2 separate regions of the Homo sapiens genome follow, and region 2 is linked to region 1. Evidence: fine-mapped expression QTL. A gene starts in region 1. The other region holds a variant in brackets. All regions are shown on one strand. Distances are between the middles of the regions. Region 1 holds the start of IL17RA (interleukin 17 receptor A). Region 2 overlaps CECR7 (cat eye syndrome chromosome region, candidate 7).

Evidence for each region. PIP is the estimated chance that this variant, and not a neighbour inherited with it, causes the effect. A credible set is the group of variants that fine-mapping cannot tell apart.
Region 2: its variant is the best candidate, but not a certain one, in a credible set for the expression of IL17RA in whole blood (INTERVAL, PIP 0.64).

Annotation. Positions count from the first base shown.
Region 1 is chr22:17,082,789-17,087,164 of GRCh38, reverse strand. It overlaps IL17RA (interleukin 17 receptor A), which reads right to left and starts at 2,165. Exons shown (of 13, transcript NM_014339.7): 1 at 1,936-2,165. The coding sequence starts at 2,073. RefSeq lists silencers at 1,383-1,632, 1,673-1,772, 2,023-2,142, 2,163-2,382 and an enhancer at 2,936-3,105.
Region 2 is chr22:17,046,859-17,051,245 of GRCh38, reverse strand. It overlaps CECR7 (cat eye syndrome chromosome region, candidate 7), which reads right to left. Exons shown (of 4, transcript NR_152826.1): 3 at 3,820-3,922. Among named protein-coding and RNA genes, the nearest start is that of CECR7, 12 kb to the right of the region's middle. The variant A/G (reference allele first, on the strand shown) is at 2,322.

The DNA of each region.
Region 1 (4,376 bases):
TGTGTTTTCTTTCTTTTTAAAAGAACTAGTCAATGGAGCCCAGAGCTGTCTATCTCTGGAGAAGAGCTGTCTGTGAGGCAGGTGTATACAGAAGAGAGAGAGAGGAAGGAAGAGAACGAGAGACTGCAGACAAATATGAACAGCAAGTGTCTCTCTTCAGCCCTCCCTGGAGCCAGGCCGTGCTTCTGCTCCTGACTTACAGTTGCTTCACTGTGCAGTGAAAGTCAGAGCTTGGCTCCCACGCCACGCACAGCAGAGTCCCATCCCCGCTTCTGGCATCTTTTCTCACTGTCCTATTACACAGACCCTCCATTCCGGCCACACACCGTACCCTGTCCCACTTAAGGACCTTGGCTCAGGCCCTTTCCACCACCTGGAATGCTCCTGCTACCCCCACAGGGCTGCCCAAATGCCTTTTCCATGAAGGACACCCCAACTGGAAGCAATTTTTCTTTTTCCTGGAATTCCGTACACTTAGCAGTTGTGCAAGCAGCTTTGCTAGACAGTTCCCTAACTTCAAGCCTTGTTCCTCCCGTAGATGGGTTAGGTCTCTGGATATTAGGGTCCCCAGAGTATTTATTTATAGTTCCAGTTCCCAGTATGGCGCCCTGTACTCTGCAGGCACCTGACCAATGGCTGTCAACCCAGGCGCACCAACCCTCCATATCAGAACGCTTCATACACAGCCTGCAGGAGGGACTAGCAGGGCAGAGGGACCTGCTTTGCCCAATAGTGGAAGTCACAGGACATTTCTCAACATCATTCACGATAAAAACATCTTTTTTTTTTTTTCTGCGACATAGTCACTCACCCTCCACCTTCTTTCGGTAAATCCTCCATAAAACTACATAAGGAGAAATATCCCTTTGTTTTACATCCTCTGACTCAGATACTGAGCATTATTCCTTGGGGTCAGCGGTGGAGGTGGAGGTGGAGGTGGAGGGGAGGAAAGATCCCCTCGGGGATGCGGGGAAGAGGAGAGTATATTGTGGAGGGGCACGGCGTTTTGCTCTTTTTTTGTTTTTTTCCTTAAGATGGTCCTGGCTCACAGAAAGGCCACTACCCGGCAGGCGGGTGGGTCACTTCCTGTGGGCGCAGCGGGGCTACGACTTGACAGCTACAAACGTTCGACCCTCCGACTGCGCTCTCACCGGGTTCCCAGACCCAGGTGGTGGTAGTCGGGGGTGGGAGTGGCGGGAAGGGCGCCGTCTTAAGAACCATCTGCCCATCCTCAGGGCTTCGCGCCTCTGGGGAGGTGGCCCTCAGCCGCCCTCGGCAGAGCTCTCCCCGAAACATGGTGCCGCGTCTCAGCGCTCCGGCCCCCGCGTGGCTCTACGACAGCGGGGTCCCTCTGGGGGCCGCGGGTGAGGGACTCCACCTTCCGCACGGACGACGTGGGCTCGCCCGGCTCCGTCGGCGGCATGAAGGGCACGGCTTGAGGGAAGCTCCCGAGGGCGCGATGGGCCTCCCGAGGGCCGACCGTGCCCCGCCGGGGTACGTGAGGGGCGCAAGGCGTGGAGCTGGGTCCAGACCCGTCCTGGCTCCTCCCCGGGCCCCTTCTCCACAGCCCCTTTCTATCAGCCCTGGCCGCCCCTCCGGCCTGGCCCAGCGCCGCGCCCTCCTTCCCCGAACTCCGCGGCCCGGGCGGAGGTGTCACTCCCGCCTCCAGTCACGACGGCGGGCCAGGTTGTGCAACACGCGCCGCGCGATGTGCCACCCACCCCCCCCGTATTCCACACCGCAACTCCCACCGCTCCGAGGGTCCTCCCCAGGCGCCGCGATATCTGTGCCCAAGGCTCTGAGCCCCTCTAAGCCCGCGGCGCGGACTTCCTGCCTCCCCAGCCCGGGCGCGTAGTCCCGACCGTCCGGCCCTCCGCGACCTTGCCCCGCGTCCGCAGCATCCTGGCGGCTACCGCTCCCCACGTCGAGTCTCACCGGCTGGGAGCAGACCAGCGCCCGGTGGTCCAGGAGTCGCAGGGAGGCGCCACCCGGGGCCAGCACGCCCAGGAGCAGCAGGAGCAGCCCCAGCAGGGGCCCCGGGACAGCGGACGGCGGGCTGCGTGCGGCCCCCATGGCCCGGCTGGCGTCGCGGAGGGCTCGGCCCCGGCTGGGGACGCAGCGAACGAACGTTCTGAGGCTTTCTTTTCCGCGGTGGAGTTCGAGTCGGCTCCACTTTGCTCGCTTCCGGCTTCCAGCCCGGGCCCAGGGGCGGGCCGGGCCGAGGGGAGGAGTTTAGTCTGGGACGGGGAGGGGTTTAGGGTGAGACAGGGCCCTCCCCCCGTTCCTCCTTGCGCCCCTCCTCTCGGCCCTACGCTCAGTCCTCCGGGCGTCCCTACCCAGTCCTTCCGGCGTCCCTCCCCGGCCCTCCTCCGCCCGCGCGCCCCAGGTGCGCTCCTCCCGCTGCTCCTGGGCCTGGCCCGTCGCGCCTCCAGTTGCACCCGCGTCGGGCTAGCGTCAACTCCAGCTGGAGCCTCGCCTGCCCCACATGCACCCTCCACCCTGGCCGTGCCGCAGCAACTGTCGATTTTAATCCTCCGCCCCCACTCACTTGATTCTTGGCCCTGTTCAGACTTCTTGCTTCTCTTGTGGGTCACTGGACGTGAAATCCCAACTTGGGATTTCAGGAAGTCCGTTTTCTTAGTCTCTGTCCCTTTTATTTTTGTTTTTTATTTTACTTTATTTTTAGACAGGGTCTCCCTCTGTCTCCCAGGCTGGAGTGCAGTGGTGCAACCGCAGCTCACTGCAGCTTCGGCCTCCCGGGCTCAAGCGATCCTCCTGCCTCTGCCTCCTGAGTAGATGGAAGCGCGGGCCATATCCCATTTTATTGTCCCCACCCCTTTGCCTGGTTCTGCTCGCTCTGCTTTCCTTGGCTTTGCTTTCTCTTTCTCAAGACAAGGACAGCTCCGGGCTCCAGGGAGGATGGGACAGCAGTCACTTCCAGCCTCCTGGCTCGGACTCGGGGACACTTGAGTTCCTGGAGGGCAGGCAACTTACCTGGTCTGTGAGACTGTGTCCCAGCCGCACCTAAGAGAGTCGTTACTTCCCAGAGGCTCACTCCACGGCCGCGGAAGCTGTCGCCAGCGAATTACACATTTCATGAGTCTCCTTCTTAGCACGCGTGCAGCCTGCGTCCTCTCCTCTCCGGACCCTGGAGGACCCTCCCAAGCCGGCCCGCGCTGCCTCTATCCTAGGTTCCTGCTTCGAGCCCGTCCTGCCCTAGTGCATCCACACGCTCCTGCCCATTCGCCTCTCCTCTCTTCCTCCCAAGACCACCACCGTCCGCTTTTCCTTGCCTATCAAGTGCGCCTCTGCCTGGCCTTGACACGCACGGAGTCTACACTCAAGTGGCTTTTCCCTGTATTTTCCACTGCCCTCGAGAGGTGGGTTTTTTCGCTGCCCGAAGCACCCGCTGACCCCCAGCGACATCTCTATGAGCCCCGCCCGCAGACACGACCCAGCTGAATGAAGCCTGAAGCTCAGTGGCCTTCAAATTGTCTGTTTCTAAAAGAATTTTGGAAAACTGCATCCTCTCATGCATTTTAAAGATGACATCTAAAATTCTCCATCCTAAGTCTAAATAGATGTAGAGGATGTAACTGTTACTTAAAAATCAGCGGTTGTCGTAGGCAGCTTCTAAGATGTGTTCTAGGATCCCACCCCCTGGGAGTCACGACCTTCTGAATCCTCCTCGCGGAGTGTGGGATGGACCCAGAGGCTTGGTTCTAACAATAGAATATGAATAGAAGAAGACAAAAATGATGGGATGTCACTTACAAGATTAAGTTACAAAAAGATCCTGACTTCTGTCTTGCCCAGCCCCTCCCTCTGAGCTCCTAGCTCTTAGGGAAGCCATGCTGGGGCCCAAGTGGCAGAGAATGAGAAAGGCCTCTGCCCAGTGCAAGACACTGAGATCTTCATTTCATCATTGCCATTATTAGTACATAATTGATAAAAAATAATGTAAATATAATACATGTTAATAAGTAATTAAACATGAATTACTTGAAATTCATTTTATTCCTAATTAGTTGATGTATCTGTGAACAAATATTGCTTATTCATAGAACAAAGCAACATTCAGCATTTAAGAAATATTTTATTTTTCTTCTTTTTTTTTTTTTCTTTTTGAGATGGAGTCTTGCTCTGTCATCCAGGCCGGAGTGCAGTGGCGTGATCTCGGCTCACTGCAAGCTCCGCCTCCCGGGTTCAGTCCATTCTCCTGCCTCAGCCTCCCGAGTAGCTGGGACTACAGGCACCTGCCACCACGCCCGGCTAATTTTTTGTATTTTTAGTAGAGACGGGGTTTCACCGTGTTAGCCAGGATGGTCTTGATCTCCTGACCTCATGATCCGCCCGCCTCGGCCTCCCAAAGTGCT
Region 2 (4,387 bases), 36 kb after region 1:
TTCCCTTTCCTCCTTTTCCAGGTCTCATTATTTAGCCCCAGCTGGTCTTGAACTGTGCTTTTGACATTGCATCTAAGACATCAGTGCCTTACACAAGATCACAAGGATTTACTCCTGTGTTTTTTTCTAAGAGTTTTATAGTTTTAGTTTTTACATTTAGGTCTGTGATCCATTTTCAGTTAATTTTTGTGTATGGTGTTAGGCAGAGACCCAAATTAATTTATTTGCACATGAATATCCAATTGCCCCACCACCATTTGTTGAAAAGACTATTCATGGTTGGACATAGTGGATCATACCTGTAATCCCAGCACTTTGGGAGACCAAGGCAGGAGTATTGCTTGACTCCAGGAGTTTAAGATAAGCTTGGGCAACATGGTGAGACATGTGTCTCTACAAAATGAAAAACAACAAAAAAAGAAAAGACTATTCCTTTCCAAATGAAGTTTCTTGACCCCTTTGTCAAATCAATTGACTTTAAATGTAATGGTTTCTTTCCGGGATTTCAATTATTTTTCAGTTAATCAATTCATTTTTTTTCGAGACAGGGTCTTATTGTGTTGCCCAGTCTGGAGTGCAGTGGTGTGATCATAGCTCACTGCAGCCTCAAACTCCTGAGCTCAATTCATCCTCCTGCCTCAGTCTCTTAAGTAGCTGGGACGACAAGTGTGTGCCACCATACCTGGCTAATTTTTTTTTTTTCTTTTTGAGACAGAGTCTCCCTCCATCACCCAGGCTGGAGTGCAGTGGTGTGATCTCAGCTCACTGCAACCTCTGCCTCCCAGGTTCTAAGTGATTCTCCTGCCTCAGCCTCTGGAGTAGCTGGTGTTACAGGCACACACCACCACGCCTGGCTAATTTTGTATTTTTAGTAGAGACAGGGTTTTGCCATGTTGGCCAGGCTGGTCTCGAACTCCTGACCTCAGGTGATCCACCCACTTCAGCCTCCCAAAGTACTGGGATTACACCACACCCAGCCATAGTTTTAAATTTAATTTAATTTAATTTTCATAGTTACAGAGTCTTGTTATGTTGCCCAGGCTGGTGTCAAACTCCTGGTTTCAAGGGATCCTCTCTCCTTGGCCCTTTAAAGTTTTGGGATTACAGGCATAAGACACCACACTTGGCTTTATTTTCTTTTACAGATACGTTTTCTCTCTCTTCCCCAGGTTGGAGTGTAGTAGCCAATCATAGCTCACTGCATTCTCAGATTCCTAGGCTCAAGAGATCCTCCCACCTCAGCTTCCTGACTAGATGGGACAGCAGGCCTATACCACCATGCCTGGCTAATCAAATTTGTCTTTAATTTTTATTTTTTTAGACAGGTCTCACTGTCTATGTTGCCCAAGCTGGTCTTGAATTCCTGACCTCAAAGGATCCCCCAACCTCAGCCTCCCAAAGTGCTGCAATTACAGGCATGAGTGCCCAGCCTGAGCTTTCAACTATATTCCAGTGACCTATACATCTGTCCTTAAGACAGTACCATACCCTCTTGATTACTTTGTAGCAAGTTTTGAAATTAGGAAGATAAGTCCTCCAATCTTGTTCTTCTTTTTCAGGATTATTTTGCTTATTCTGTGTCCTTTGCATATCCATATGAATTTTAGGATCACCTTGTCAATTTCTGCAGAAAAGGTAGCTGGGATTTTGATAGGAATCAGGTTGATCCTGTAGACTAATTTGATGAGTACTGACAATAATATTTAGTCTTCTGATCCATGAACATGGAATATCTTTCATTTATTTAGTTCTTTTTTAGTTTCTTTCCACAGTGAGTACTTTATTCTTTGGGATGCTATTGTGAATGGAATAATTTTCTGAATTTCATTTTTGGATTTCTCATTGCTAGTGTACAGAAATACAATTGATTTTTGTATGCTGATTTTGTGAACTTGCTGAACTAGTTCTAGTTTTGTTTTTTTTTTAAACTGGATACCTTAGGATTTTCTGTATACAAGATCATGACATTTGGGAGTAAGACAGTTTTACTTTTTCCTTTCTAATCTGGATCCTTTTATATATCAATCGCCTAATCATCCTGGTCAGAACCAAGGCTGCATAGACCTGCTGAACATGGCCATCCTTGTCTTGTTCCCAATCTTAGGGGAAAGCATTCAGTCTTGCACCATTAAATCTGTTAACTGTTAGGTTTTCACAGATGCTTTTCATCATGCTGATGAAGTTCCCTCCTGTTTCTAGTTTGTTGAGGGTTTTTTTCCATGCATGGGTAGATAATTTCACTCTCATTTACAGAAAAGGAAACTGTCATTCAGGCAGTCTGCCTTCAAAGATCAAGCCCTGGATCACAGTGCTATCTCTAC[A/G]GCACACTCTTCCATTTAATTTTCCCTCTGGCCCTCCTCCGAATTCTCTCTTTCAGCTCACTTGGGAATGTTGGTGTTCTCCAGGAATCTCAGCTCTTTGCTCATGTGCTTCTCTCCTGAAGTGGGAGAATGGCTTCAGCTGTCACCTGCAAGCTGATGACTCCACACTCCCTATCTTCTTGCCCTCACTGAGCTCTGGTGTGGCCTCATGCTTCCAAGACTTTTCCACTCAGATATGTCAAGAAATCTCAAACCCATCCTGTCCTAGAATGCCCTGTTATCCCTCTCCACTCAAGAAGGCTCCTCTGACTCTATTTTCAATATTGGATGCTTCTGCCATTTGTCCTGTTCCAGCCTGAAACCTGGCCGTGATCCCACATGTTTCCCTCTCCTTGGCTCCTCCTCTCACCTTTTCTAATTGGTGGCCAAGTTCTACCTATGTTCTTTCTTCACCTGCACTGGTACTGCCTTGCTCCTGCCTCCAGTCTCATTCTCCTCAAATTCACCCTCCAGGTAACCAACGGAGTGATTTATCTGAATTACACGTCCTCTGATACTTAGCCCTTCACCAGTTCCCTATTCCCACAGCATGGGAACCAAGGCCTTTTCTCATCTGTTCCATTTCATACACTAGGAACTTCCACCAAAGACTGAAGTCACTAAATGCACTTTCTCATGTCAGTTTTAAGAGCTGTATGCTACTTTCGTCATTTGGAGACATTAGAAATTATGTTACTAGTTCAACTTTACTGTCTTTTGCATGTCATGTTGTCTCATGCCTCAGTGCTTCTTGTTTACTCTGTTGTCTTTTTTTAATATATTAAACTTATTTAAATAGAAACAGGGTTCTTGCTGTGTTGCTCAGGCTGGTCTCAAATTCCTGGGCTCAACTGATCATCCTGCCTCAGCCTCTCAAAGTGCTGGGATTACAGGTGTGAGGCACCAAGCCCAGCCCTGTCTTGTTTTGAGAGGTTCTTCCTCTTTCCACATCATCCCCTCTATTCCTTTACATCTTGAAAATGCCTACTCACTAGGCCCTCCTCTTTGAACCTCCTCCTAACTCTTGCAGAGTTAATTATGCCCTCCTCTGTGTTATTTCACAACATTGCATGTGCTTGTAATATCGCATGGGCTGTCCTATAAGTATTTGTCATTTTCTTACTCTCCTGAGTTCAGCATTTATACTAGATTTATCTTAAACACTCTTATAAATTGCCAGCATATAGAAAGTGCTTAAGAAATATTTGTTGTAATCACCTGAATTAGGATTTATCTATGTCTCCTTGCTTTTAATAGATCATTTTCTAATTTGTCAGTTTAAATACATTTTTAAGAGAACACCCCATCCCTAAGCCAAATTGCTTCTTATGCAGAAAAAAAAGCCACTACTGTGAGTCTCCAAGCTTCCCCCTGCACAGCCACCCTAGGAGACATGGGGCAGGAGTACTGGGAACTGACCCCTTCCATCTGCCCTCACTTAGCTTCCTCGGGTACTTACATGGGGCTGTCACTGACTTTACATGCTGCTGCAGCTCCTTAGTCAGCTGGTCCTTGTCATGGGACAGAAACTGTGGGGTCAGGACAATCAATGCCTTCACCACCTGCAGAACGAGGGCAGAGGCTCATGATGAGTGTCAACCTATTACATAGCATAAAAAGTCAGTATTTATTGAATGAGTGGAAAAACAAGGTGACGTTGGACCCTACAGTAGTTTTGGAAAATAAGAGGACCAGGTGCAAATGCCTGTACTTCCAATGTCCACTCCATGCCTTGAAAAGTTACTTGACCTCTCCTTAACCTCAGTTTCCTTCTCTGTGAAATGGGAATAATAAAGATTCCATTCCTCATTTGGTTTCTTTAAAGCTTCCATGAGATAATACATATAAAACATCCAGGTAGTTTACATTATTATCCCTGTCATCAGTACTTTCATCATTATTTTTACTATTATTATATATACCACCCTGTGCCTGTAACCCAATGGGTATTTGATAATTATTGACAATTTATTATTCATATATTAGTAGTGTTATCCCCATTTTATTGTACAAGGCCTTGCATATAG